Homo sapiens: one gene and its partners. The protein of the gene in region 1 interacts with the protein of each later gene in a biochemical or structural test. Each region holds a gene or a part of one and is shown in the gene's direction. Other genes may lie near its edges.

What was found.
Region 2: the proteins of PDLIM2 (region 1) and ASIC3 interact in a test that uses a peptide from one of them, tested with the Homo sapiens proteins (one large-scale study listed by IntAct).
Region 3: the proteins of PDLIM2 (region 1) and HTRA4 interact in a test that uses a peptide from one of them, tested with the Homo sapiens proteins (one large-scale study listed by IntAct).
Region 4: the proteins of PDLIM2 (region 1) and RADIL interact in a test that uses a peptide from one of them, tested with the Homo sapiens proteins (one large-scale study listed by IntAct).
Region 5: the proteins of PDLIM2 (region 1) and PARD3B interact in a test that uses a peptide from one of them, tested with the Homo sapiens proteins (one large-scale study listed by IntAct).
Region 6: the proteins of PDLIM2 (region 1) and DLG1 interact in a test that uses a peptide from one of them, tested with the Homo sapiens proteins (one large-scale study listed by IntAct).
Region 7: the proteins of PDLIM2 (region 1) and CASK interact in a test that uses a peptide from one of them, tested with the Homo sapiens proteins (one large-scale study listed by IntAct).

Annotation. Positions count from the first base shown.
Region 1 is NC_000008.11:22,589,974-22,592,846, forward strand, and holds part of PDLIM2 (PDZ and LIM domain protein 2), read left to right. Parts: intron 1-1,577; coding exon 1,578-1,695; intron 1,696-2,873. UniProt on the Homo sapiens protein: Probable adapter protein located at the actin cytoskeleton that promotes cell attachment. Necessary for the migratory capacity of epithelial cells. Overexpression enhances cell adhesion to collagen and fibronectin and suppresses anchorage independent growth.
Region 2 is NC_000007.14:151,046,522-151,051,330, forward strand, and holds the start of ASIC3 (acid-sensing ion channel 3), read left to right. Parts: upstream 1-2,009; 5' UTR 2,010-2,364; coding exon 2,365-2,898; intron 2,899-3,584; coding exon 3,585-3,735; intron 3,736-3,959; coding exon 3,960-4,087; intron 4,088-4,236; coding exon 4,237-4,432; intron 4,433-4,517; coding exon 4,518-4,574; intron 4,575-4,650; coding exon 4,651-4,798; intron 4,799-4,809. UniProt on the Homo sapiens protein: Forms pH-gated heterotrimeric sodium channels that act as postsynaptic excitatory receptors in the nervous system. Upon extracellular acidification, these channels generate a biphasic current with a fast inactivating and a slow sustained phase.
Region 3 is NC_000008.11:38,976,823-38,981,033, forward strand, and holds part of HTRA4 (serine protease HTRA4 precursor), read left to right. Parts: intron 1-1,130; coding exon 1,131-1,325; intron 1,326-2,392; coding exon 2,393-2,425; intron 2,426-3,136; coding exon of another isoform or gene 3,137-3,169; exon of another isoform or gene 3,170-3,663; intron 3,664-4,211. UniProt on the Homo sapiens protein: Serine protease.
Region 4 is NC_000007.14:4,873,145-4,877,355, reverse strand, and holds part of RADIL (ras-associating and dilute domain-containing protein), read left to right. Parts: intron 1-4,211. UniProt on the Homo sapiens protein: Downstream effector of Rap required for cell adhesion and migration of neural crest precursors during development.
Region 5 is NC_000002.12:205,300,516-205,304,726, forward strand, and holds part of PARD3B (partitioning defective 3 homolog B), read left to right. Parts: intron 1-14; coding exon 15-221; intron 222-948; coding exon 949-1,186; intron 1,187-4,211. UniProt on the Homo sapiens protein: Putative adapter protein involved in asymmetrical cell division and cell polarization processes. May play a role in the formation of epithelial tight junctions.
Region 6 is NC_000003.12:197,137,576-197,141,786, reverse strand, and holds part of DLG1 (disks large homolog 1), read left to right. Parts: intron 1-1,522; coding exon 1,523-1,647; intron 1,648-3,395; coding exon 3,396-3,565; intron 3,566-4,211. UniProt on the Homo sapiens protein: Essential multidomain scaffolding protein required for normal development. Recruits channels, receptors and signaling molecules to discrete plasma membrane domains in polarized cells.
Region 7 is NC_000023.11:41,916,537-41,920,747, reverse strand, and holds part of CASK (peripheral plasma membrane protein CASK), read left to right. Parts: intron 1-4,211. UniProt on the Homo sapiens protein: Multidomain scaffolding Mg(2+)-independent protein kinase that catalyzes the phosphotransfer from ATP to proteins such as NRXN1, and plays a role in synaptic transmembrane protein anchoring and ion channel trafficking.

The DNA of each region.
Region 1 (2,873 bases):
GCTGGGATGGGAAAGTGTCATTCGAGTGATAAAAGCGGTGGCAGGGCCTGGGGCTGGGCCTCCAGGGAGGGCTTCTTGGAGGAAGAGGGATTTGACTTGGCCTCTTGGCCTTAGAAAAAACATCAAGACTTAAACAGCATTAAGAGGGTGGCAGGAAGCACTGTGGAAGGTGGAGGCTGGCGGCCAGAGGGCTTTGGGGTGTGGGAGTGAGAGAATGGGGGCCTGATAGCATGAAAGGGCGCCAGTGGAGGCCAAGCCCCTGCAGTGAGGGCCCTCGGGAAGGGAATCAGGCTGAGGAGTGCCCTAACCCAGGAAAGCCATTAAATACTGATGCCAGGCGAGCAAGACATACGGAGGCTTGCCAGAGTTCCGTTATTCATGTGACAGACACTGACTGTGCCCATCTGAGGGACCAGATGTGTGCAGAGTTTGGGGATAGGTGGCCATGACCCCACTCCTGCCCTTGGGGAGCTCCGTTCATTGGGGCAGATGGGCCTGGCCAGCTCCCATGGAAGTGAGCGCTGCTGTGGGAGTTACTACTCCCACAGCCCCTGTCCTTAAGGTGCTCAGCACCAATGCCCTCTAGAACAGTGGGGAGAAGGGGAGGGAGATGACAGGACAGGTAGGAGAGTGGCCAGAGAGGCTTCATAATTCATCTATGACTTTGAATTTTAAAATGGAGAGAAGCTGGTTTCCCAGGAAATGGTGCCCCTGGCCCTGGGCACTGGCCCGCCTGGCTGTCTCCAAGGCTCTCCTTCCCAGTGGCTGGTGTGGGCTCCTGGACCTCAGTTGAGTCCCATTGGGGTGGCAATGGAAAGGGAGCAGGGGAGTGGGGAGTACAGAGATGCAGGCTGGAAACTGGCCTCCAGGAACAACTGTGAGGTTGAAGGTGAGATTTCCATTTTGGGAGCAAATGTAAGAGGCCATATGGACAGGGCACACCTGGAGATTGGCAGGTGGCTGGTTCTAACGCTGATGTTTAGCTCCAAGGGGCATTTGCAGAGGCACAGGGGGTGGGGTGAGAAGGTTTGGAGCAAATCTGGTCTGTTTTGACCCTGAGGCCTCAGAAGGTCCCAGGAGGCAGCACAGGGAGAGAGCAGTGACTTTGCCAAGGAGGCCTCAGCGTCCTTAGCTGCAGACGGGCGACAGCTGCCCCGTAGCCCTGGGCTTCATCTTCGTGTGGCTTGAGAGCTCAGATGTGACAAGGCATGGAAAAGCACTTTGAAAGCCACACCGAGGCATTGCGCTCCTGTTGCCATCTCCAGTTATTATCTAATCACACTGTTATTACCAGGTCATTAGAGAGGGAGCACCTGCTTCACCTGACACTGAGCACAGATGGCCCCAGGTGGCCTTGGATGGGCAAACTCGGCCTTGTACCTGCCTCCTTCATGCCCTTGCCCAGCCTCAGCCATGGATCTGGCAAGATCACCTTCCTCCTTACCTGGTGCCACTGTCAGCGTGACTTTAGGGTTTCTCTTATAAGGGTGCTTTCCAAGACCACCTCCTCAGAGCATCTTTGGGAGGATGCTGTGGTTGGTGGGCTCTCACCACATGTCTGTCTGCCCTGCCCCCAGGTGGCACGCCAGCCTTCTTGCCCAGCTCACTGAGCCCCCAGTCCTCCCTGCCCGCCTCCAGGGCCCTGGCCACCCCTCCCAAGCTCCACACTTGTGAGAAGTGCAGTACCAGCATCGCGTGAGTGTGGAGGGGGGTGGGGGACCTGAGCCTTCACAGGGGAGTGGGGAGGGGGACAGGGCACTGGATGCTTTCAGGAAGGGCCGGGCCCATCAGGGGCTAGCACTGGGTACCCAGTCGGGGACTCTAGGGGAAGCAGTGTTGCACAGCTTTGGGGGCATTAGTTACAGGCTTCTTAGGAGCCTAGGCTAGCTGCTTCCGGCTGCATCTCCTCTCCCTCTCCTCCTTTTCCCATCCCTTTTGATTTCTCTTTGATCATTTCAAAGCCTCTGGAGATCTGCCCGGAGGTACAGCACATCCTCTTGGAAAATCTTGCTCTTTCCCCTTCTTCCCCCTTTGGAGCAGGCTGCATTTTTCCCGATGTGGGCTCATTTTTCTTATTTTTCTTTTCTTTTCTTTCTTTCTTTTCTTTTTTTTTTTTTTTTTTTTTTGAGACGGAGTCTCATTCTGTTGCCCAGGCAGGAGTGCAGTGGTGCAATTTCAGCTCACTGCAAGCTCTGCCTCCCAGGTTCACGCTATTCTCGTGTCTCAGCCTCCCGAGTTGTTGGGGCTACAGGCTCCCGCCACCACTCCCAGCTAATTTTTGTATTTTTAGTAGAGACGCGTTTTCCCCATGTTGGCCAGGCTGGTCTCAAACTCTTGACCTTAGGTGATCCGCCTGCCTCGGCCTCCCAAAGTGCTGGGATTACAGCGTGAGCCACCATGCCCAGCCGAGGTGGGCTCATTTTTCTCATTAAGTGGCATTTATAATGCAACCACATTCTCTGGAAGGTTGCTGAAACCCCCCCTCAGGTAAATTTCTGAAGTGTGTAGTGTGGGAGGGGCAGGTGATTGACTTTAGGCAAATCCCTTAACCTCTCTGGGCTTTAGTGTTTTCATCTGCAGAGTGGGAGAATATCCAGTCCCCCTGCTGTGCAGAGATAGGGAATGTGTGTTGAAAAAGCATGTTTTCCATCCTGGTTCTCAAAGGTGTGTGTGTCGGGTCCCTTGGAGGGTTTGTTAAATGCCGATGGCTGGGCCCCACCCCAGAGCCTCCTCTCCAGGAGGCCAACAGGCCTGAGAATGTGCATTTCTCACGAATTCCCCAGTGATGCGGATGCTGCTGGCTGTGGGACCCAGGACCACACTGAGAATCACTGCTCTGTTAAAAATCCAGGCAATGTGGGACGGACTTACAG
Region 2 (4,809 bases), on another chromosome or scaffold:
AGATGCATCAGCCCTCCCCATGTTGGTGCCGCTGTCACTTCCTACTGGGATCCTTCCCCTATCCAGCCACATCCAGGCTGTGGGACTACACGGTGCCCTGTTCCCCTGGGCAGGAGAAGAGGTGGTACCTGCAATGCACCTTCACAGCCAGGCAAGCATTCTGGATTTACCCTGTGTAAAGAAGGGTGGTACCCTCTTTCAGGGGTGTGATACAGTGCATTGATGGAGCAGCTGGTGCTGCTGGGAGGCCAGCCTGGAAGAGGCAGCAGTGGCTCAAGTTTGCGTGCAGGAGCCAGAGTGGGACCCACGGGCTCTTGTGGGTGTGGTTTAGAACTAGATGGTGCTTTGGGGACAAGCCATCCAAAAACCCCAGGCCCACATCCACCCTGATTTGATATCCCACTTCCTGACAGATCAGAGGCTGTGTCTTTAAGCAGTGGAGGTCCAGGAGCAGAGCCTGGGGCTGGTTCACAGCTAAACCCCTCCTTAGGGCAGCCCAGAGTAGGGCCTCAGCTGGCAAGTCCACAAGCCCTGCTGGGGCCCTGCTTGTTGGCCTGACCCCTCCCTCACCAGGCAGCCAGCCAAGGTGGTTCCTGCTTCACCCACTCAGTCATCAGCCTCAGGCTGCCCAAAATGCCTCTGACACCAGATTTATATCTTCTGGGCGGCTTCTTTAAATCCAGCCCTTCACCCGCCCCCTAGAGAAGCAGTGAAACCCCTTGGCTAGTCCAGCTGGAAGAGCTAGACCGCAGGAGCCGCGCCGTCTTCCTAACCTCGCCTCGGCCTTCGCTCCACAGTGGAGAGTGGGAGCCTAGCTGTGCTTGATGCTGAATGCCTGTTTTGAGAGTGTGAGTGGGATCATCTACAGTAAATACTTGCAAAGCATGGCACTGTGGCTCTGGGGAGCTGGTACGCCTGTGCTGTAACCATGGTACTCAGTCCTTCCAAAGTGTTTATTAATCAAGCACCTGTCATGTGCCATTGAGCCCACGATGGGGAATGAGGACAGTCCCTGCCCCCATGAAGCTTGTGTCCTGTTGGGAGGACAGACAGGTGGCCCAGCAGTTGCAGCATGGTGTGTGCACACGTTTGGCTGGTGGAACCATGTTTCTACCACTCATGGTCAAAAAAAGCCCACCAAAGTCCTGGGAGTTCACATCTGTGTGATGATACGGCAACATTGTTTGTAATGGAAAGACTGGACACCCCCAGTGCCCATCAGTGGGGGAGTCATTAAATAAACTATGGTATGTGCACATAATGGGTGGTATGCAGCCCTTTGGAAAAATGTAGGTTTTCCAGGTCCTGGATATAGCAGCGTAAGATGGGAAATCACAGAATACCCATGTTGTGCCTGAGATGGCAGGTGGGGTACCCGTGGTACCCGGGAGGGTGGCAGGTGGGGCACCCATGTTCTACCTGGGGTGGCAGGTGAGCCCATAACCATTGTAGAGGCCAACATCCTCAGAGGCCTGAGTGTGGGGAGGTAGGCTTTGACTCCCTAGGGAGAGAGGGACACTTAGGAAACAGACGGGCCCTGGAAGTGGGACATGAAGAGTGCCCTGGCCATCCAGTGTAGGCTGAGATGCTAGGGGCACAGAAAGAAGAGATCTGCTGATGCCAGCCTTCCAACCATTTCCCAGCTTGGCCAAGAGCCAGCTCTGGTATTCGTGAAGGAACAGATCCTGGGTGAAGCTAGAGGGAAGGCCGCAGAGGCAAAAGGAGAGAGGAGCTAGGCCAGGGGTCAGCGACTGACCCTCGCGGCCAGTGTACAGGGGTTGCAACTGGGAGCCTAGGGGGCCCCAAGGCATCTCCAGGCCCAATCTACCTCTGGGCTTTTCTCAAGCTCTCCCTAGGATTACTGCGGTTTCCTCCTGGCGCCTCTCGTCTTGGACAGCCATGCCCCCCTCCATGCTGCACTAATGGCTCAGCCTGGGGCCCTAGGGACCTCTCCTACCCCCCAGACTGCTCTGTCGGCCCCCTTTCCCCCCTACTGCTGAAACCCAATCCTCTGCAGCAGCGCCGGCTCAGCACCGCCGGCTCAGCACCGCTCCGCAGCCCCTGCCTGCCACGGTCAGCTACGTCCCACCTGGTCTGCTGCGGAGTCCCCAGCCCAGTGCCTAGCCCAGTGGAGCCACCGCCTGTTCCTCGGGAAGGAACAGTGGGACCTGACCGGCCAGATCACCTCCTCCAATCCTGCCAGGCTAGTGCCTCCCTGCCTTCCAACCTTGGCTGTCTCCCACCCTCTCTTCTCCTCTCCTTGCCTGGCCTCCTGAATCCTATCTTAGCCTCCTTAGCCCCCTGACTGACTCTCTCTCGCTTCTTCCAAGCCTCTGTAGCTGGTTCCGCTCCTGGGTTCTGGCCATGAAGCCCACCTCAGGCCCAGAGGAGGCCCGGCGGCCAGCCTCGGACATCCGCGTGTTCGCCAGCAACTGCTCGATGCACGGGCTGGGCCACGTCTTCGGGCCAGGCAGCCTGAGCCTGCGCCGGGGGATGTGGGCAGCGGCCGTGGTCCTGTCAGTGGCCACCTTCCTCTACCAGGTGGCTGAGAGGGTGCGCTACTACAGGGAGTTCCACCACCAGACTGCCCTGGATGAGCGAGAAAGCCACCGGCTCATCTTCCCGGCTGTCACCCTGTGCAACATCAACCCACTGCGCCGCTCGCGCCTAACGCCCAACGACCTGCACTGGGCTGGGTCTGCGCTGCTGGGCCTGGATCCCGCAGAGCACGCCGCCTTCCTGCGCGCCCTGGGCCGGCCCCCTGCACCGCCCGGCTTCATGCCCAGTCCCACCTTTGACATGGCGCAACTCTATGCCCGTGCTGGGCACTCCCTGGATGACATGCTGCTGGACTGTCGCTTCCGTGGCCAACCTTGTGGGCCTGAGAACTTCACCACGGTGAGCTGACCTCCCTACCTATCCTGCCAGGGACCCAGAGAGCCGACCAGTCCCTGCCCAGCACCCACAATTCCCTAGCCAGCACAGGCTCCCCCAAAGCCAGGGGACCTCTTCCTTCCTACCAGCCATGGACTCCCCACCCCCCAGTGCCACTCCGTGCAGCCCAGGAAGCTGTCCTCCTTGGGGCTTTCTCTGTCTCCCAGCCCGAGGGGAGCATGTGAGGCCACACTGACCCCGGCTGGCCCTAGGCCTGAGGTCTGGCCCAGGGAGGCCCTGCTCCTGGGGCTGGGGGTCCTCCATGGTGGGACCATTCTGGGGCAGAAGACCCCTATCTCTGCCAGGAGGTGGGGGGGGCTTGCTTTCCCTCTGCCTTTTCAACATACTGCCAGCCCCGGAGGACAGCCACAGGGGCCCATTTCCTTTTCCTGCAGTTCCCAGAGAAACACAGAAAAACCTGTAGGCTGTGCCCTGGGCTTTGGTGGGGATTGGCGGGGTGGAGGAGCTGAGTTGATGGGCTCCCAAGAGCGTCCTGCAACATGTGCCCACTGGAGCGTGGGGCTGGGGGCATTGAGATGCGGGCTTCAGTATTCAAAGAAGAGACGCAAACATACCATGAGGTGGGGAGAGGTCCCATGACCATGTGCCTGCCTGGGGGAGATGGCCATCACCCTGTCTGCCCGCCCCAGATCTTCACCCGGATGGGAAAGTGCTACACATTTAACTCTGGCGCTGATGGGGCAGAGCTGCTCACCACTACTAGGGGTGGCATGGGCAATGGGCTGGACATCATGCTGGACGTGCAGCAGGAGGAATATCTACCTGTGTGGAGGGACAATGGTAGGGAGCACACAAATGAGGCTGGGGGAGGGCACGGATGGAGTGCAAAAGGCTAGGGGAAGGAGAGGAGGAGAGGAGGTGTCAGGGTGTTCCCCCAGAACCTGTGAAAGGGGCTGGGCTGGCTCATCCCAGTCCTGGGGAGAGGGGCTGCAGTGAGAGGTCTTGTCTGGTTGGGCAGGAGACCTGACCACACAGGTCAGGCCTCACAGGTCCCTCCCCGACAGAGGAGACCCCGTTTGAGGTGGGGATCCGAGTGCAGATCCACAGCCAGGAGGAGCCGCCCATCATCGATCAGCTGGGCTTGGGGGTGTCCCCGGGCTACCAGACCTTTGTTTCTTGCCAGCAGCAGCAGGTACCCTTCCGTGTGCCTCCACACCTACTACTTCAAGCCCACACCACCTCAGACCCTAAACCCTCAGCTCCTCAGACCTGTCTAGGGGCCTCTCCCCAGCTGGCCTCTCACGCTCTCCGGGAAGCCTCCTTAACCCTGTCCCCCCACAGCTGAGCTTCCTGCCACCGCCCTGGGGCGATTGCAGTTCAGCATCTCTGAACCCCAACTATGAGCCAGAGCCCTCTGATCCCCTAGGCTCCCCCAGCCCCAGCCCCAGCCCTCCCTATACCCTTATGGGGTGTCGCCTGGCCTGCGAAACCCGCTACGTGGCTCGGAAGTGCGGCTGCCGAATGGTGTACATGCCAGGTGAGGGGCTGGGGTTTTCGTCCCATGGCGGGCAGGGCCCAGGGAGCTGAGGCTGCTTCTAAAGCCATCTCCCCGGTACCCGCAGGCGACGTGCCAGTGTGCAGCCCCCAGCAGTACAAGAACTGTGCCCACCCGGCCATAGGTAAGGGCGAGCCTCCCCCACCTCCCGTCCGCCCCGCTCCGCCCGCGGGCGTCTGACGCGGCCCGGTGGCCCGCAGATGCCATGCTTCGCAAGGACTCGTGCGCCTGCCCCAACCCGTGCGCCAGCACGCGCTACGCCAAGGAGCTCTCCATGGTGCGGATCCCGAGCCGCGCCGCCGCGCGCTTCCTGGCCCGGAAGCTCAACCGCAGCGAGGCCTACATCGCGTGAGCTGCGC
Region 3 (4,211 bases), about 16 Mb from region 1:
CACACCACATCTTTTCTGTTGAATATATGCTTTTCTCTGGTTTCTTTCTGTTCTTTACTCCCTCTTTTATTTATTTGCTTCAACGCCTTTCTGTATATCCCTAACCGTTTCTTTCTTTTCTTTCTTTTTTTTTGAAACAGTCTCCCTCTGTCACCCAGGCTGGAGTACAGTGGCTCAATCTCAGCTCACTGCAACCTCTGCCTCCTGGGTTCAAGTGATTCTCCTGCCTCAGCTTCCTGAGTACCTGGGATTACAGGTGCCTGCCACCACGCCTGGCTAATTTTTGTACTTTTAGTAGAGACTGGGTTTTACCATGTTGGCCAGGCTGGTCTCGAACTCCTGACCTCAAGTGATCCGCCCGCTTCGGCCTCCCAAAGTGCTGGGATTACAGGTGTGAGCCACTGCGCTTGGCCTCTAACTGTTTCTATTAACTATCAAGCAGTCTTTTTTTTTTTTTTTTCCTCCTTCAACAAATGCTGCTTCAGGGAAAATTATTTCTCTACTTGTCTTAGGATATCAGAAATTACTGCGATGGACTCAAAGTTGCTAAGGAATACTTTGAAGTCCTTCCTACACATAGTACTGGTAGTCTGCACATCACATATATTGACATGGTGTCTGAGAGCTTTTTAGAAGTTCAGAGTCTCAGCCTTTACCCAGATAGATGTGCTGACTCAGAATCTGCATTAACATAACATCCCTAGGTGATTTGCATGCACATTACAGTGTGAGAAGTGTCACCCTGGGTGATCTCCTTTCTGTTTGTGGCTTATTCACTTTGACTGTTAAGCTTTGAGCTGGAATGGTGCTGTGTAAATTCCTAATGTCAGTTTATGTTCATCAGTGACTTCACTGGCTGTTTACTAATAGTAATTTCTACAAAGTAATTGTTTTAGATCTTAGAAATGATCCTAGTCATCTTAACACTCAAGAGCTTCATGGTAGTTGGACTTTGAGGAAGAAGTAGAAGGCAATCATAGAAGCTGTGTGAGTGGGTGCTTCTCAGGTGGTAAGGGCCAAGGTGATAGAGACAGCGTCATATATGTGTTAGACACACACTTTGGTCAATTCTGATCGTGATTTGTTCTTTACCCTTTCTGTCCTCCCCATCCCTTTTTGGGCACGTGCAGGCTGAACTTCCTGTACTGATGCTGGGAAGATCATCTGACCTTCGGGCTGGAGAGTTTGTGGTGGCTTTGGGCAGCCCATTTTCTCTGCAGAACACAGCTACTGCAGGAATTGTCAGCACCAAACAGCGAGGGGGCAAAGAACTGGGGATGAAGGATTCAGATATGGACTACGTCCAGATTGATGCCACAATTAATGTAAGTCACTTAGGACAGAGGTGCCCAACCCATGGGCTGTGGACCAGTACAGGTCCATGGCCTGTTAGGAACTGGGCCGCACAGCAGGCTGTGAGCCATGGGCGAGTGAGAATGACTGCCCGAGTTCCACCTCCTGTCAGATCAGTGGCGGCATTAAATTCTCATAGGAGTGCAAACCCTATTGTGAACTGCGCATGCAAGGGATCTGGATTGCATGTTCCTTATAGAATCTAACTCATGCCCGATGATCTGAGGTGGAGCAGTTTCATCCCAAACCACCCCTCCGTCTGTGGAAAAATTGTCTTCCACAAAGCCGGTCCCTGTGCCAAAAAGTTTGGGGATTGCTGACTTAGGAGGCCTTTCCTCAGATCACACAATATTGGCAGTTCAGTGAGAAGAATATGTCAGAGTGAACTTTGGGGATGTCCAGGTTTGGTTGAATCACTGTGGGAGGAATGGAATGCCACTTTGTTAGAGTCTGTCTCGTTCGCTGTGATCGCTGGCATCCATGCTATTAGGTGGTCTGTTGTAGAGGTCACCCCTCCTGTAAGAAGGTGGTGGTCCCTTGGCCAGGCACGGTGGCTCATGCCTGTAATCCCAGCACTTTGGGAGGCCGAAGGGGGTGGATCATGAGGTCAGGCATTCGAGACCAGTCTGGCCAACATGATGAAACCCTGTCTCTACTAAAAATACAAAAATTAGCTGGGCATGGTGGCGGGTGCCTGTAATCCCAGCTACTCAGCAGGCTGAGGCAGGAGAATCACTTGAACCGGGAGGCAGAGGTTGCAGTGAGTCGAGATTGCGCCATTGCATTCCAGCCTGGGCAACAGAGTAAGACTCCGTCTCAAAAAAAAAAAAAAAAAATGAAGGTGGTGGTCCCACTGCTATAGTTCTTTACCTACACTGACTTTGGTATTGGTGATGATAGGGGCACAATTTTGCCGGCCTGGGGGGAATAGGAGCTTGGTGGGCTGCTTTTGGTAAACTGTTTTGGGAGCTATGTGTAAAGGACAAGGGGGAATGTATTCATTAGCTTCACTGATGTCTTTTTCAAATTCTGCTTTTAGTATGGGAATTCTGGTGGTCCTCTGGTGAACTTGGTAAGTGATCACTTTCCTTGTTGCTTCATGTTTCTTCTTAACTTTCAAAGACTTTATTAATTCCAGGCCAGGGGTGGTGGCTCATGCCTGTAATCCCAGCACATTTGGGATGACTGCTTGGGGCCAGGAGTTTGAGACTAGCCTGGGCAAGACAGCAAGACACCATATCTACAAAAACAAAAACAAAAAAGGACTTTACATATTCCATGATGCAGACTTGGGTGCCACTCTTGTGTAGAGAGCTGTGGAATGGTGCTTTTCTGTTCTTGGACCTTAAGTCAATAGTTAGAAAAAATTCAAGATTGTTATCCTGGTGTGTGATCTCATCCCACTGAGAACACTAGGGTTCTAGCTCCGGCTTCCTTTGAAATTTCTCTCTTCCCCGTGCTTTCTGTTTTCATTGGCTAGTTACCCAAAGCCCTGGATTTTATTTATTTATTTATTTATTTAATAGAGACGATGTCTCACTATGTTGCCCAGGCTGGTCTCAAACTCCTGAGTTCAAGTGATCCTCCTGCCTTGGCCTCCCAAAGTGTTAGGATTACAGGCATGAGCCACCATGCTGTGCCAAAAGCCCTGGATATTAAACCCAGGTTTATGCCAAATGACCAGCTTTGCTATGAAATGTAGGTCCTTGAAGACTCCTTGATGCTGCATATGAAGAACTATCTCTCATTTAAAAATGCTAATTACATAATGTCATCTGTCCAGGTTTTTAGTCTTGACCTCTTGACCTGCTTATAGATGAGAGAAAAGCCACAACCAGCACTCCTGACTTCAAGTGAGCTGCCTGCCTTGGCCTCTCAAATACATTGCCGTGTCATGTATTCTTAAATTGTATTCCGTGTCTCTAGTGGAAATGTCAGGGTTTCTAGTTGCCCAAATACATGTGAAAACCTAAGAGAGTGCAATGCTGTTTGACACATAGCATGTGATCATCCTTTCTGAGTCCCTTTGCACTGATTGCTTTTGGTTCCTGTTTAAATATTACATTTGCTTTTAGAATGAATTTTATGCAAAATGATTGTTTTTTTTTTTTTACTCATAGCATTGCATGTCATTTTTCTTTGTTTTGTTCCTGCCTTCTCCATTAGACAATGAGTTTACTAGAGCAGGGATGAAATGCAGAATTTCAGGCCATACCCCCGACCTACTGAATTACAATCTGTAGTTTAACACAATCAGAAATCTCTTTTCTGGCTGGGTACGGTGGCTCACTCCTGTAATCCCAGCACTTTGGGAGTCTGAGGTGGGTGGATCACCTGAGGTCAGGAGTTCAAAACCAGCCTGGCCAACATGGTGAAACCCCATCTCTACCTAACATACAAAAAAAAAAAAAAATTAACTGGGCATGGTGGCATGCGCCTGTAATCCCAGCTACTTGGGAGGCTGAGGCAGGAGAATCGCTTGAACCCGGGAGGCAGAGGTTGCAATGAGCCAAGGTTGCACCAATGCACTCCAGCCTGGGCAACACAGTGAGACTCCGTCTCAAAAAGAAAAGAAAAAAAAAAAGAAATCTCTTTTTTATCCTTTCCCATTACCTAAAAGGCTAAAGGAAGATGAGGTACATAAAGAGGAAAATATTTTCTACCTCATACCTTTAGCTTAGCAGAGCTTTGTTCCCTAAGGTCAATTTTGCTAATTCTCAGTGCAGTGTTACTGACAATCCCACAGCTTTTTACCTTTTCCATGTTTATTTTTACTTTTAAATAATAAAAAGGCAAATGCTCCTTGTCCTTCTACCTTTGTCAAAATACAAACTGTGGCTCACTTTTAAAGTCAATGT
Region 4 (4,211 bases), on another chromosome or scaffold:
GATCCTCCCACCTCAGCCTCCTGAGTAGCTAGGACTATAGGTGCACCACCACACCCAGCTAATTTTTTACTTTTTGTAGAGACAGGAGTCTCGCTGTGATACCCAGGATAGTCTTGACCTCCTGCCCTCAAGCGATCCTCCTACTTTGGCCTCCCAAAGGTTTCCTCTTAAACTCACCACTTTCACCTCAGCTGTCTGGGAAGTTGTAGTTTGTCTACGCAGCAGGAGGCTGGCTGGTGTTCCTCAGAGGCTCCTGATATATTCTTGCAATATTTGAGGCCACATCTGTTCTTTTGTCTGATCAGATTATTGTCCAGCTCTCCAGCAGTCATCTCATTGACCATAGCAACCACGCACGCCTTGTTAAATACAGGGTCCCTCCAAGTCCTTTAGCACCTGCGACCTTGTCGGGGAGTTTTTGGGGCAATGAAGTGAAAAGACAATCAAGGAATCTGTCCCAGGCCAAAACCTACGTGGCATTGCCGGGTTGCAAGGTCTCCAGAGGTGACCACGGTGCACTCAGCGTACCGCGGGTCTGTGGGTGCCTGGGTGGTGGGAGGCCTTCCTGAGGAGGGCCTGGCCACGGGCAGCCGATCATTGTCGGTCTGAGGAGTGCCGAGAGCACGGGTGGCGTTGAGTGCCTGCCGCAGAGTTTGAGAGCCCCGGGGCCTGGGGCCCACTGTGTCTGGTGATTTATTCAATTGGTGGAAAGAAGTTGATTATCTTAATAGGTGTGTGTCATAAAAAATAATTTTGGCCAGGCGCGGTGGCTCACACCTGTAATCCCAGCACTTTGGGAGGCCAACGCAGGTGGATCACCTGAGGTCAGGAGTTGGAGACCAGCCTGGCCAACATGGTGAAACCCCGTATCTACTAAAAATACAAAAATTAGCCGGGCGTGGTGGCAGGCGCCTGTAATCCCAGCTACTCAGGAGGCTCAGGCAGGAGAATCGCTTGAACCTGGGAGGCGGAGGTTGCAGTGAGCCGAGATCATGCCATTGCTCTCCAGCCTGGGCAACAAGAACGAAACTCAGTCTCAAATATAAATAAATAAATAAAATAAATTTGGCCGGGTGTGGTGGCTCACACCTGTAATCTCAACACTTTGAGAGGCCAAGGTAGGAGGATCGCTTGAGCCTAGGAGTTTGAGAGCAGCCTGGGTAACATAGTGAGGCCCCATCTCTACAAAAAATAAAAAAATTAGCCAGGCATGGTGGTGCATACCTATGGTCCCAGCTCCTCAGGAGGCTGAGGTGGGAAGATGGCTTGAGCCGCAGATGCTGCAGCCAGGATTGTACCACTGCACTCTAGCCCAGGCAACAGAGTGAGACCCTGTCTCAAAAAAATAACAATAAAAAGAGTAACTTGTGGTTGCTTTAATTATGGCTCTTAAAGTCTGCTCAGACAAGCACCCCCAATTGCCTGCACCTGGGGATCCTTCCTCCACCCAGAGGTCGCCACTTCTGGGATTTGGTTTTCATCCTGACCCTGCCATGTCACGATCCAGTGGTCCCTTGGAAGGACCGGTGATCCGGTGGCAGAGATGGGGTCCCTCCCCTCCTGATTCAAAAAGACCTCCTGTGAGGCCAGGAAACCCGAAAGGGAGGAGGCGCATGGTGGGATGTTTTCTGCACGGGAACAAAGGCTCTTCAATGTCAGACACAGAATTTCGGTCATTCTTCCACCATGCGTTGCCTCTGCCAAGCAGCGGGCAAAAAGCGAGTGGGACAGGGCCACCTTGGGGCTGCAGAGCACGGGCCAGGGTTGCTGCTGTGTGGCTGGGGATCAGCCTGGCCTGTCCTCAGGCCATTGCGTTGTGTGTCACCGGGCGAGGAGGAGCCCTGGGAAGGCCCGCCGTCTTCACAGGTGATAGGCGACTGCCAGTGTAGGATGGTGGGGCCAGAGTGCATGTTGCAGGAGACAGGAGCTTGTCTGAGGCTCACGTGCTTCTTTTTTTTTTTTTGAGATGGAGTCTCTCTCTGTCGCCCAGGCTGGAGTGCAATGGCATGATCTCAGCTCACTGCAACCTCTGCCTCCCAGGTTCAAACGATTCTCCTGCCTCAGCCTCCTGAATAGCTGGGATTACGGCATGCACCACCACCACGCCCGGCTAATTTTGTTGTTGTTGTTGTTGTTGTTGTTGTTGTTGTTGTTGTTGTTGTTGGAGATGGAGTCTCGCTCTGTCGCCCAGGCTGGAGTGCAGTGGCACAATCTCGGCTCACTGCAAGCTCCGCCTCCCGGGTTCACGCCATTCTCCTGCCTCAGCCTCCCGAGTAGCTGGGACTACAGGCGCCCGCCACCACGCCCGGCTAATTTTTTGTATTTTTAGTAGACACGGGGTTTCACCGTGTTAGCCAGGATGGTCTCCATCTCCTGACCTTGTGATCCGCCCGCCTCGGCCTCCCAAAGTGCTGGGATTACAGGCGTGAGCCACCGCGCCCGGCCAATTTTTGTATTTTTAGTAGAGATGGGGTTTCACCATGTTGGCCAGGCTGGTCTCGAACTCCGGACCTCAGGTGATCTGCCCACCTTGGCCTCCTAAAGTGCTGGGATGACAGGTGTGAGCCACCACACCCGGCCAAGCTCATGCACTTCTTTTGGAATCATTCCTGTTAAATTATTCAGGGCGAGCGAAAGCACCCCTGCTCACAGCCTGTCTAAGCTCGTGGCGGTTTTCGAAACCTGCCAAAGAGAGTCCATCAGGCTGCCCAGCCATACTGACACACTCATCTGGGCTGGAGCAGGTTGTGTTACCTACCCAGAGCTGGCCCCCTGGGCCTCGGGCACTCATCCTTCCTTGCTGACCTTCTCTGGCTGTGGCCCAGGGACTCCTGTGACCCTCAGCCATGCCAAGAAGGTTCACTGAGGCGGCCGGGTGGTTTGAGATGGAGCAGCTGGTAGAGGCATGCACACATGCTTCTGCTCATTACAGAACGGTTATTGAGCCTCTGCCTGGAGCCGGGGGAAGGCTAGACCCAGGGGGTCCCCACGTGGATAAGCCAGGCTCCGCTGGGGATGACCCCGCACAGACCTTACTGTAGCTGGACAGCCCTGCCTCAAACAGGCCCGCGCCCAGAAGCTTTGCGCTAGAGTGTGTTCGGTTGTTGTGGTGACACATGGGTACCTGGACAGAGAAATGTCCACACAGGTGCTCACACACACAGTCTCCCACTTGGAACTGTTCCCTGCGTGAGACACCTGCACGGCCTTTCCGTGGGTTGGAGGCGGCCTCTGTGCACATCCCTGGAACCCGCCTCTGAGAGGTCTCTCCTGCTGGCTTGGAGGCACGGAACGGGGAGGGCACTGAGCCTTTGCTGTGTCCCACGTCCCCCTGAGTGAGTTTGCAGCCGGCACTAGGCGATTCCTCCCTCGCCCCTCCAAGGGGAACGACTGAGAGCCAGAGAAGGGGAGGAGGTGGGAAGCCGAGGGGTTTTTCACTGTAGCAGCTTCTCCAGCAGCCGTGGGCGCCAGCCTGCCTCAGGTTGGAGTGACGTGGAAGAATCGTGGTGGGGAGGCTTTCCTAACACCCACCGTGTCCTCTCCATTACATACCTCCGGTGATGGTGAGCTCTGCGCCTTCCAGCAGCCCGCCTGTCCTGCGCCTCCCTGGGCACCGATGGGGCTGCTGTGGTGTCTGTTTGTCCTGAGAGTGGCCCTCAGTGTGGGGCATGTGTCACCGTGTCGCTTTGGGGGAAGGTGGGGGGCTGCAGTGAAACAAATCCTACTGAAGTGGGTGGTGTAGTTTCAAAAGGACGGCGGGATGGCAGGATCACATCTGCCCCTGCAGGGCAGGCCCAGTGAGGTCCAGCGCACGCCAGGGCCCCTTCAGCTCCTGCATTCTCTCCCAAGAGGACCCAGCGTGGGGCTGTCCCTGATCCCTGGTGAGATAACAGTTCGATCTCACCTGGAAAAAGTGGCGAGAAAGGGAAGGGACCCCTGGCCTGTGCATGTGGTGATGTGATGTGCACGTGTGACCATGTGTGTGTGTCTGTGTGGTGTGCATGTGTGTGCATGCATGTGTGACCATGTACGTTTGTGTTAACGAGTCCAGCCCCAGGTTGCTCAACACTGTAACACTGTTTTTCAATAATTTCCCATTACTCCTATGGTAAGAGTCACACTTGGCCGGGCGCGGTGGCTCACGCGTGTAATCCCAGCACTTTGGGAGGCCGAGGCAGGCAGATCAATTGAAGTCAGGAGTTCAAGACCAG
Region 5 (4,211 bases), on another chromosome or scaffold:
CCTTTCTTTTCCAGAATCTCCAAGCAAAGATTTTGGTCCAACTCTGGGTTTGAAAAAGTCCAGCTCCTTGGAGAGTCTGCAGACTGCAGTGGCCGAGGTCAGGAAGAATGACCTTCCCTTTCACAGGCCCCGGCCGCACATGGTTCGAGGCCGAGGCTGCAATGAGAGCTTTAGAGCAGCCATTGACAAATCCTACGATGGACCTGAAGAAATAGAAGCTGGTAGGATGATATGCTTCCTTAAATGGCTTCTTCATCTCATTATTATCTGCAAATCATGGGCAAGAATGTGTGCTCAACTACAGAAAAAAATGATTTAAGGATCACAATTATATTTTTGATATTAAAAGTAATTCATTTTCCTGATATGTTTTGCCCTTTGGCTTAATGAACATGGAATTGGAGAACACAATATGCAATTTATTTTACAGTGCAAGGCTAAATAAATGTTCTCCTTCACTTTTCTACAAGGACCAACTGTCATTTACCCTTAGGGTAGGAGCACTAAGTATGCATTTCTTGACATTCTCATTCGAGTCATTAGAGGCAGCATCAATCCAAGGACTCCGACTGCATTAATTGGGTAGAAGCAGTTGGGATATTTTGTACTCAAAACTCTCTTCTCACCCTGTTTGTTTCCCAGCATGCAGGCTTTCTGAGCTGATCAAGGTTAACAAGGCAGCTTTCAGAGAGATTAGTGCTTGAACACATATCAAGCCTTTCATACTACCAGCTAAGCAACCGGTTGTCCCCACTCCCAGCATCAAGTCTTGCTCGAAGTAACCAGATTTAGGCAGTCAGATCTTCAAAGGGCGCACGTAACCACATAGAAGGGTAGAACTACAGAGTGCTGTTATTCATTCTTTTGCATTTTACATGTTAGCGTTTCTCTGTATACTAACTGAGTGTGCCCCTGACCATGGGTATTGATTATTTTTTCTCTGTACAGACGGTCTGTCTGATAAGAGCTCTCACTCTGGCCAAGGAGCTCTGAATTGTGAGTCTGCCCCTCAGGGGAATTCGGAGCTAGAGGACATGGAAAATAAAGCCAGGAAAGTCAAAAAAACGAAAGAGAAGGAGAAGAAAAAGGAAAAGGGCAAATTGAAAGTCAAGGAGAAAAAGCGCAAAGAGGAGAATGAAGATCCAGAAAGGAAAATAAAGAAGAAGGGCTTCGGCGCCATGCTGAGGTATGGGCCTGCTTTGAAGGCAAAGTTGGTTCTCATTTTGTCTCTCCTGGTAAAATCACTCCTTTGTCTGTACTCAGAAAAAAGCGCACGCTTTTCCTCGTCTTCAGCCAAATGCATACGGCTCTCAATTCTGTGCTCGTTCTCTTTCTGCAGAGGCAGAGGAGCTTTTTGGGGAAAGTTACAGTGATGACAGGACACTGTCTTAAGTTTGTTGTCAAAGAAAGGTCAACACTATGCCAGGCACGGTGGCTCATGCCTGTAATCTCAGTACTTTGGGAGGCTGGGAGGATTGCTTGAGCCCAAGAGTTCAAGACCAGCCTGGGCAAGGTAGGGAGACCCTATTCTTTTTTTCTTTTTTCTTTTCTTTTTTTTTTTTTTTTTTTTTTTGAGACAGTCGCGCTTTGTCGCCCAGGCTGGAGTGCAGTGGCGTGATCTCGGCTCACTGCAACCTCCGCCTCCTGGGTTCAAGCGATTCTTCTGCCTTAGCCTCCCTAGTAGCTGAGACTATAGGCATGCACCACAACGCCCAGCTCATTTTTGTATTTTTAGTAGAGTGGAGTTTCGCCATGTGGGCCAGGAGTCTTGAACTCCTGACCTCAAGTGATCTGCCTTGTCTGCCTTGGCCTCCCAAAGTGCTGGGGTTTCAGGCAGGAGACCCTATTTCTAAGAAAAAAAAAATTAGCCAGGCACAGTGGTGCATACCTGTAATCCCAAGTACTCAGGAGGCTGAGGCCAGAGCATGGCTTGATCCCAGTAGTTCAAGGCTGCAGTGAGCTATGATTACACCATAAAAGAAAGGCCAATACTTAGTAGAGGCATGGACAATGCCTGCAGTCCTTTGTACCAAAGTGTTATGAAAATAAATACTTCCTCTGACACCACAGGGAAAGTGGGAAGTGGGGAAGCCCTATGTGTTACCTCTGGAATACCTCTTTTGAAGCAGGGGAGTCAGGGTAGATGAACCTCATCCCTCTGTGACTCTAGGTGTGCAGTGGCCGGGCCTCTGGGCACATCACTTGTCACCTCCAGAGGCACTGTGGTACAGGGGAGATGTCACTGGGTCTGGGCTCTGATGCCCAAGTCTGGATCCATGACTCCCCACACATGAGCAATGGGGCTTCACACACATTGCTTAGCTTCCCTGAGCCTTACTTTCCTTACTTTTAAAATGAGGCCAGCATACTTGCTCTACTGACCCAGCACAGTTGTGAGATATGATTTCATATGCTATACATTCATTGACTAGACGGGGCTCAACATGGCACAGTCAGAAAACAGCTTTGTTTCTTCTCTCCCCTTCAAGTATAAACTGTTGAGGCTGCCTCTTCCACACCCTGACATCTCAGCTTTCTGGCTGATAGCTTTCTGGTCACTTTTGGGTAAAAAAAAAAGCAACTTGTTTGTCGGGGGCTAAAATATGCAATCCAATATAAATGAAAGCTTTCTTCCTTTCTGCCTGTTGGACCTGAACCACAAGGAGCATCCTATGGTATGGTGGGAGGCAGGATTCCACCTTCTCCTATTTCTCAGTCTTTGGAACCAGGAGACAAAGACAAGATTCAATAGGATAGGATTTTACTTAACTGGCATTATCTGGTATAATCTGGCCATCAAGGAATCTTTGTGGCTACTTTTGTGGATTTTTTAGAGTGCTCCTTACTATACCAGTCACTAATGTAGGTGATTTTCCCACTGACCTATTTCCCTAAGCCTCTGACCTCAGACATATACCCCTGAGTCTCCTTACCCCGGCTGGTAGACTTCTTGGACAGTGCCAGTTTGAGACAGCTCTAGCTTAACTTACAGCCACAGCATCTACCTGGCTTATTAGAGTTCCTGATCTCCCACCCTCCAAATGATGCAAGTACAGCTTGTTCCCACTGTACCGCTCCTCCTCACCCCACCATAGAGATGTTCCAACCAGCCTTGCATCTTCAGACTTCTCCAGCACATCCCACACCAGCTCTGGGCCTCCTCACTCCAGAAGCACACATCAGACTCTCCCAAGAATGCTGTCATGCATGGGGAAGGGAGGAGGCAGTCAATTTTTGCAAGTCACAAAATAAACAGGTAGGAAGTGGGGTGACAATCTCCTATTATACAATTACCTCCAAATTCCCTAAGGGGTTTACTTGTAGCCCCCTCACTTATTTTGTTGGGTGTTACAGGCAGAAGTACCCCTTTCTATTACTGTCTTTACTCCTATAATTTCTTCTCAAATCAATTGATCACTATACTTCTGTGGGCTGAAGGTGAATGATGGGAGATGATGGTTTAGGGGCCAGTTTGGCCACCTCTTATGAAACCCTTAGGAGATACCTCATTTAAGAATGCTGCGTGTATTTATTACCAATTGTTCTCATTTTGTGATCATCAGCTGAAATTTCTACATAGAAAAGAAAGTTCCATCATTCCATATATAAGTGACATTTAGGGAATACAAATAATCCTCTTAGCAGTGAGCCTTCCCGTTACATTTCCAGTGCTCATGAAATGCTAAGCAAGGTTCCTCATGCTCAAAATCTTGGGAGCGATGTTGCCCCTGGATGTGTTATGACAAGACTTGCTGCGGTCCTGCTATCACCTGGGGTGAGGTTACCCCAGCAGGCCTGATGTCATAATAGCTATCTGAATATTAAAAAACAAAATTTTGGCCAGGCATAGTGGCCCAAGCCTGTAATCCCAGCACTTTGGGAGGCCAAGACGGGCGGATCACCTGAGGTCAGGAGTTCGAGACCAGCTTGACTAACATGGAGAAACCCCTTCTCTACTAAAAATACAAAATTAGCCGGGCGTGGTGGTGCATGCCTATAATCCCAGCTACTCGGGAGGCTGAGACAGGAGAATCGCTTGAACCTGGGAGGCAGAGGTTGTGGTGAGCCAAGATTGCACCATTGTACTCCCGCCTGGGCAACAAGAGCAAAACTCCATCTCAAAAAAAAAAAAAAATTCAGCTAGGCATAGTGGCTCAGGCATGTAATCCCAGCACTTTGAGAGGCTGAGATGGGCAAATCACTTGAGCCCA
Region 6 (4,211 bases), on another chromosome or scaffold:
GCCGAGATCGCACTCTAGCCTGGGTGACAGAGTGAGACTCTGTCTAAAAAAAAGAAAAAAGAATATCTGCATTCAGTTTTTATTGTATGTTATAATAGTAATGCCACCTTATCTGGCTAGCATTTTATGGAAATCTAGTGTTTCACACAAGCAGATTTCTTAAGTAACTAAATGTGTGTATACTCAAGACTGAAATCCTAGATAATTAGATTTATTTATATTGGAATAGAATCTGAGAAAAATAAATCTGAGAGAGTCTCTTACATGTATATCTTTATTGCCATCTACTTAAATTCGGATCACTTGCTCAAGTTGGGTGGCTACTGGAGTAATATTCAAGTAAGCACAGTATTAATGTACTGTACATACTTTAATATAGTAGTTTGTGATGTCTCCTAACTTTTTATATTATTGATTTTTTATCTTTTCCCAGGGCCTTTTAAATTCCTTTTGTTTAGTTAGGACTATACATTGTATTTTTCACTGGTTGAAGAACTTGAGTACCTAAGTAATTTGGTAACCTCCCATAATCCACTGGTACTGTTCTTAAGATTCAGGTAATTCATGAAGTTAGATTGAAAAACATTTTTTTATTAAAATAGAATTTTAAGACAAATGGTGGTAGAGTGGGTGTTTACACTGTTTAATACTAACAGTTAAATGATAGGTCCACATATATTTGCTTACTTGAGTTGCCTGAAATTCAGTTAGAACATTCTTCAAGAAATAAACATTTTTTAATACCATTGGTTAAATCAATTATTTTTAAAGGCTTTTTGTAGCAGTCGAACCCTTTCTGTGAAGAACATATTCAGAAATCTTGTTTCTCCAGTTCATAAAACAAGCAAAAAGTAGAGCTGCTTTGGCAAAATTTACTTTGCTGTCAAGAAAATTCACCAATGTTAAGTTCTCAGGTTGGTCTTTCAGTCAGTGTGAAACAATGCCTTTTGCTAATCGGGTATATTGGTTAAACATGTCAGGGACTGATGGCAGCTATCACTTAGCAGCCACAATTTGGTCATTTAAAAATAAGCTGATGTCAAGTTAGCAGAAGAAAAGCACCATCGCCACCCCCTTTTTTAAAGGCTAAAACAGTATATGGGTTTTGCCTACTCAGAAATAACAGCGGGAAGATCACTTCAGCATTTGTCTCTTAGGAGAGATGTGCCCTACCAAACATGGCTGAGGTGCAGTCTAAAAGAAACAGACTTACAGTGACACCTCTGCAGATGGGTGACTAATCCAACGACAAGTTGCACATACTTTTAAAGAAAGAACTGTGGAGTATACTTCAAAAGTCCTTGGTGTATTTTCTTGAACCTCACCTGTTCAGCAGTAATGCCTCTGAAAGGACTTTCCTCCAGAACAAGTCCATTTAATTTAGAATCTTTATATTACTCACCCATATACCTTTATTTGTTGTGTTCCTTATGTTAGTACAGTTTCTGCGTCCTTTAATGACAGGAACCTGTCCATAAAGATAAATCATATTCAGTCTCAATTTTTTTTCTTCTATCCTCAGGGAAATTCAGGGCTTGGTTTCAGCATTGCAGGAGGTACGGACAACCCACACATTGGAGATGACTCAAGTATTTTCATTACCAAAATTATCACAGGGGGAGCAGCCGCCCAAGATGGAAGATTGCGGTATGTTTTGCGCTTTTTATTGTGATGCTGAATCCACTTTGTGTATTTTTCTTGAAGCAGACTGGATAAGGGATAAATACAAATAACAAACACGATCATGATAACTAGCATAGGGTAGATGCTTTAACAACATTCAAGTCAATGAATGAGATAATTATGCTCTAAGCATTGTGTTCCTGTTTTCATTTAGACTCCAGTTTTATCTTAGATATTATAACATTTTGAATAACAAATTTGGTTGATGGTTTAAATCTTTGTGAGCATATTTATAGAAATCATGAGTTTCCCTTTGTGTTTTCAGATACACTCACAGAATATTTTCCATTTCCTCTCTGGCTGGGAAACATGTGTATAAACTTATTTAAGTACACTCACAGAATATTTTCCATTTCCTCTCTGGCTGGGAAACATGTATATAAACTTATTTAAGATACGGAGGATAGAGGATCACACATCCATGTTGAATCCCACACCACAAAGACTATATGCAAACTTTAAATAATATATTTTCTTATTGACTAGATGAAAATAACATTTGTCTCTGTTTAAATTTAGTGTTCCATTTTGGAAGATATATTTTGCAAACTTTGATTTTTTGAGGGTCATAAATTATGTCATTTTTCCTATTTCCTTGTTTGTTGTTCAAATACCCTGAAGTTTTAGGACTAAAGAGTTTATGTAGTCTGTTAAAAACAGCATCTTATTTTAAGGACGTTGATGCCTTACGCAGTTTTTGAATTTCTAAGCTTTATAATTCTCACTGGGTATGACAGGTGGTATATTAATGAAATCAAATAGATATAAAAATTAATCATTTGACCATTCATGTAAATGTAGACATTTACTTCCTGATTCTGTTAGATATAGAAGCTTGTCAGGACCAGTTTTAATATTTTAATTATGTTTTGTTTACCCTCTCTACCCAATTTGAGATGACCATCTTTTTTTCCTGGTGGAATACCATGCAATCAAAGAGACCAGAACTAGGGAAAAGGCTAAGACTAGGAACAAATCAGACTTTTAAAAAACATAACACCATGGCAAATTATAAGTTCTTTACCTACGAAACCTTTGAATTAAGTGACCTAATCTTTATATAAATTTCAAAAAATAACTTAATTGTTTTATGTCTAATATATAGGTTGGAATAGGCACTCAGAAAATTATTTTTACTTTATCTCAGTTTTCACACTATCTCTGTGACCTTAAACTCGTGATGTGAGCCTCAGTTTTCTTATCTTTGAATCACAGCTCTGTCACTTATTATCTGGGTGGCCTTAGGAAAGTTATTTACATTCTTTGTGCCTCAGTTTCTCCATCTGTGAAATAGGGATTAAAATATATATTAAGCTTACAGGTGTCATGAGGGTTAAAATACCAAGAAAGTGCCTGGCATGTGGTTAGTGCTAAATAAATGTTTGCTATTTTTATAAAGTGTGTCTTAATGCCTACACAGAATAAGCATGCAGGAAGTATGCAAATGGTAGCTGTAATTATTATTTAACATTTTTATATAATCTATTATTTTCACTATTTCTTTTGTTCCTTTTGCTGGCCCTTGGGAAATGTTTGTATTTGTTTATATTAGTTTTTGATATACTTTCTTCATTTATGTTTTCTGGAATTACTCCAGAATTATTTATAATTCTCTTTACCTTAAAAAAGAAGTAACAAAAAATTGGTAAAGTGGAAAATTTATATTTAAATTATATTTAATTTTTATTTTTAATATTTAATTGTTTTCTCAGGGTCAATGACTGTATATTACGAGTAAATGAAGTAGATGTTCGTGATGTAACACATAGCAAAGCAGTTGAAGCGTTGAAAGAAGCAGGGTCTATTGTACGCTTGTATGTAAAAAGAAGGAAACCAGTGTCAGAAAAAATAATGGAAATAAAGCTCATTAAAGGTCCTAAAGGTATGTGGTAAGTCAAACTAAGATAAATCTTTAAGAAATCTCTGAGTTAAATATACCTATGAACTTTATCTGTGACATACATTCCAAGTACAGTATTAGTAATATTCTACAGAACTTGAGTGGATTTTAATTTCTCCGTTATTTCTACTGATTTTTGTCTTACGTAGCATTTTAGAATATTTACATTTCTACCAAGATTGCAGCATTTGAAAAGTTCCTTTTTTTGCGGGGTTTTTTTGTTTGTTTTTTTGAGGCAGGGTTTTGCCCTGTCACCCTGGCTGGAGTCCAGTGGTGCAGTCATGGCTTACTGCAGCCTCAGCCTCCTGAGCTCAAGCGATCCTCCCACCTCACCCTCCCAAGTAGCTTGGACTGCATGCACACACCACCACACTGGGCTGATTTTTTTTATTTTTTGTAGAGACGGAGGCCTCCCTGCATTGCCTAGGCTGGTCTCAAACTCCTGGGCTCAAGCAGTTCTCCCACCTCAGCCCCGCAGAGTGCTGGTATTACAAGTGTGAGCCACTGCACCTGGCCCAAAATTCTTACGTTTATTGATGTATGCTTTTATACATTTTACTGCAGTGAGCATATATATAAATTTATAAGTTTTTTATGATTTTTATATTCAATATTTGCTCAGCATGTT
Region 7 (4,211 bases), on another chromosome or scaffold:
GGATATCAAAAAGAAATGGTCAGAATCACATTAACACAGTCCATATTCTGCTGATTTGTAATTGATAGAATATTTTTCAGGAAACACCCCTGGGAGAAAAAAATTCATCTTTTCTGACTGTTTCAGAGCTGCATAAAGAGGGGCAGCAAGCTAATTTTGAGGTGATAGGTACTCTATGGCTACCTTAACTACTATGAACTGTGAAATCTCATTCATATCCTACAAAATCTGACTTGGTCAGTGCCAATTATAAAATGCCATTATGTGAAATAATGAATTCAAGCTAGCCTTATTGTTAAAGAATGTAATAATAGTGTTCCTCAATCTGAGTAAAGGTTGAAGGTTTCTCTAGTAAATTGTCTTAGTATATATTGATCTGGAAATTGAAATTAGCTTGAGATTTTCTTGCAGGGACCTTGACAGCATACATTTTTAACTTATAATTTGTTCACCTCTGAATTTGAACAGAAAGCCCTTGAAGATATTCACATGTACTGAAAACCTTTTTATTGATTTCTATCCAAGTTCTATGGAATTTTGATTTTCTTTTTTACCAAATTAGTATCACAAGTTGTTTTTCACCACTAGATCTTAATAGGTTTTAATTTTTACTAAGGTACTTTAAAATAGATTTCACTTTTCAAGACTAATTGACTACCCACTCACTCCTCTACCTACGCAACCACCTACTCACTCACCCACTGTGTACTTGGCCTTACTTGATGGCATAAATGAAAGTTCTCGTTTAATTTAGACCCTTCAGTGTGTTTTTTTCCCCCTTGGTTGAGAAAGATAACTTACAGAGTTAATGAGGTTTTGAAATATAAGATCATTATTTGGAATATGTTTTCTTTCCAGTGGTTGCAGCCTTTACCCTTGTTAAAGCTGTCTTTGAGGGAACATGTGCCCAATTTGTTACAAATATTGGAAGGATGCCGTTTCCCTTTTTAAAAATTAAAACTCTTTTCCCTGTGTTTCTCATTTTTGAAAATCTTGCAGAAACTCCTTTGAGTGACTGTTGGTTCTATAACATTTTCTATGTAACTATCTTTTAAATGACTGAAACAAATCTCCAATAATAAGACCTTATCATAGTCCCAAAACTTCTTGTCTTAGCAAATGTAGCGATTACTGGAAAGGAAGGGCGTTATGCAAATGAGGTTAATGACTAATTTTTATGTCATGATCATTTACTGTATCTTTTACAATTATAAGTAAGTGTACAACCGGTAATACTACATGAAGGAAATTTAAGACAATTCATCGAAATTAAAACATAGAAAAATGCCTACTTTCTTGGTACAGCAGTGTGTATGAAAGGGAATAACAAAATACATACCATTTTTACCTTGTGTTAGGTGAATACTTGCCCTGTTTAGTAGCCTGTAGCTTCAGACTTTCCTGCTCTGGTAGGACATACACTAAAATTGGAATGATGCAGCATGACCCTTGCTTAAGGATGACGTGCAACTTTGTGAGGCATGCTGTATTTGCTTACTCCTCGAGAGCACTTTTATTTAATTACAGTTACTTATTTATGGATCTCTCTAGTTCACTAATAAGGAGCTTCCTGAGGGCAGGGAATGTTTCTTACACATCTTTCTCCATTAACACAGTGCGTGCAATGTAACTGCCTTTCATTAGCTGTGGAATGAATTGAGTAGTTTTAATAAAATCTCATTAAAAGGCAAAAAAGCATGTTTGTCAACCTCAGAGCAATTATTGTCCGAAGAGCCTGCATTAGTTTAAAGTAGTGGTTCTCCACCTGGCTGCATATTAGAATCATCCGGGGAGCTTTTAAAAAAGATCAACGCCAGAGCCCTGTGTCAAAGCAGTGAAGTCCGAGTTTCTGGGACTGGGTCCTGGTCACTGACATTTTTTTAAAGCTCTCTGTGTGATTCTAATATGCAGCTATAATGAGGAATCATTGGCTTAAAACTTAGATTATGTATGTAATATTTTGGGACTGGCTTTTCAGAGGCTTACAATTCTTACAAAGTAGAATAAATTCTTTTTGGAAGGTATTGAAGCTAAATGGCTAAAACATGGATTTTATCTTCTATGCACTTGTGTTTCTCAGCCTTATTGTGTAAAAATTTAGTTTTAGCTTGTGTTTGGCTTTGATTTCTTGGGCCTTTTAAGATCCACATTGATTTATGACACTCATCTAATGCTAACATGGCGATTGTCTGACGTTTGGAACAACACAGAACAAGGATTGCTTCAATAACAGTTGATGATGGTTTTCCACTATAATGGCTTGATTTAATATGAAGAAATTTATCAGTTTAGTATGGATTGTGTTTGTACATACACTCTATTAAAAGAGTATGGTTAAGTTGCTTGTATGCTTTAAATTACATACTTGTGATTCCAGTAATGCTGTTAGCTGGAGAATTGAGTTAATGCAGCCTTTATGTAAATACTGGATTAATAATACGTAAAGTATATAATTCAGCATACAGAAAAATTCAGCTTTACTAATTTGTACTAATTACTATGACTTTCACATGTATTGATTCATGCAGTGATTTGGGTTTCTAGTACCATAGGGAGAATTTCGCATTGTGTTGAAAAAATGTTTCCCGGAAATTTTAACTAGACTTTGTAGGTAAACTAGTTTTTAATGTTAGGAAAAGATCAAGTGTTTGCCTGAAGGAACCGAGAATTTTCCAGAAATGAGTAGATATTCCAGAAATACCAGTGATCGTGAAAGCAGTGCATGATCACAGTGACAGCCAAGTAACAAGGTAAAAGAAGTGATCAGCAGCTAAATTGTTGGTGGCCCAGAAAGAATGCAAGCCATGGGAGTTAAGCTGTACTTCTACAGAGGAAAATCCTTTTGAACTCAGGGTGTGGATGCTACAGATAGCAGGCCTCAATGGGAGTGGGGAAGCAATATTGATTCCTGATGATCCTAGGATCATTTGGAGGGAGAACAGAGCTACTCCGTTGCTTTTCTGCATGTATACAACCTTCTCTAGTCTCTTCCTGTCTGCTTTTTACAGATTGCTTTAGGGTGTGTTGTTTGAAGTTGTCTTCATAAATACTTCCTGTGGACTCCCTTAATTTTTATGTCCGTAACACGCTTCTATGTACTTGACATACGCAGTTCAGCTCTCTCCATTTTTTCCTTGTATCTGCAACAGTTTCACCTGATGAACTACGTCTCAAGTGTCCCTAAATTGTGTACCTGGATATTTCCTTTAAACTGAAAATTCTGTCTCCAGCTGTAGTTCTACTCAATAAATTGAAGGAGCAGATATACCTTGCTTCTTGAGATTATTCTTGAATTATTACATTTTCTTAAACGTTTTCACATTTTAAATGTGGTAGGAGCACTGCATTTAAAGGAACTTTGACATAAGGTTGTTTAAAAAACTTCTATAACTTAAAGCTTACTTTATAAAGGGATTGACATTTATCCCTCTAATGTTAGGCATTTTGGATGTATTATTTAATCATACCCATTTTACAGAGAACACTGAGATTCAGAGGGGGTGATCAGTAATTCGCCTAAGATCACACAGATTCCAACGCGGTTCCATGGTTTTAAAGTCTGTTCATTTCATGCTGCATTCTGCTGCTAATTCAAGTTGTGAAAATACTGTGTTGGATTTTCTTAAAGACACGTCTTCATTTTCAGAGTTTCTATACTGCAAATTTTAGTTGTTTGACTTTCTGGTTAAATTTCTTATTTCTTCAGTAGAGGTTCCATATACTATTCATTCTTTCATCTGTTTCTTTTTTATTTTTGTCTTTCTCTTTAATGAAACATCAGCATTTGTTACCAAACTAACTGGTAAATCTAGCAATGGAAATATAGACTCTTGGCCATCTGTCCAAAATATAATTTGTTTTGGAACTTTCTCTACTTCTTTTACTCTCCAAATTTTTTCTTCCATTTCCCTTGCCCCAACAGACAGGATAGTTGATTAATTACCCCTAACTTGCCAAACCAGAAGTAATAAGGTTTCAGAGGTAGATGTTTGTTGGAAGTGGGGTGGAGTGGTTTCCAAAGGATAGTTATTCCTTTATCCTGTGATAAAAATACGGAGATTGTTCTCTCTGATTCTGAAAACCGTGTAGTGAGCTGCAGCCGCTGAGTCTGTGAGCTTCTAGCTGTTTGCCAGCACTGTACACCTTAAATAATCAAGAGACTGAGTTAACTATTGCAGAGCAGGTACCGGACCCCAGCCAACAAGCTGATG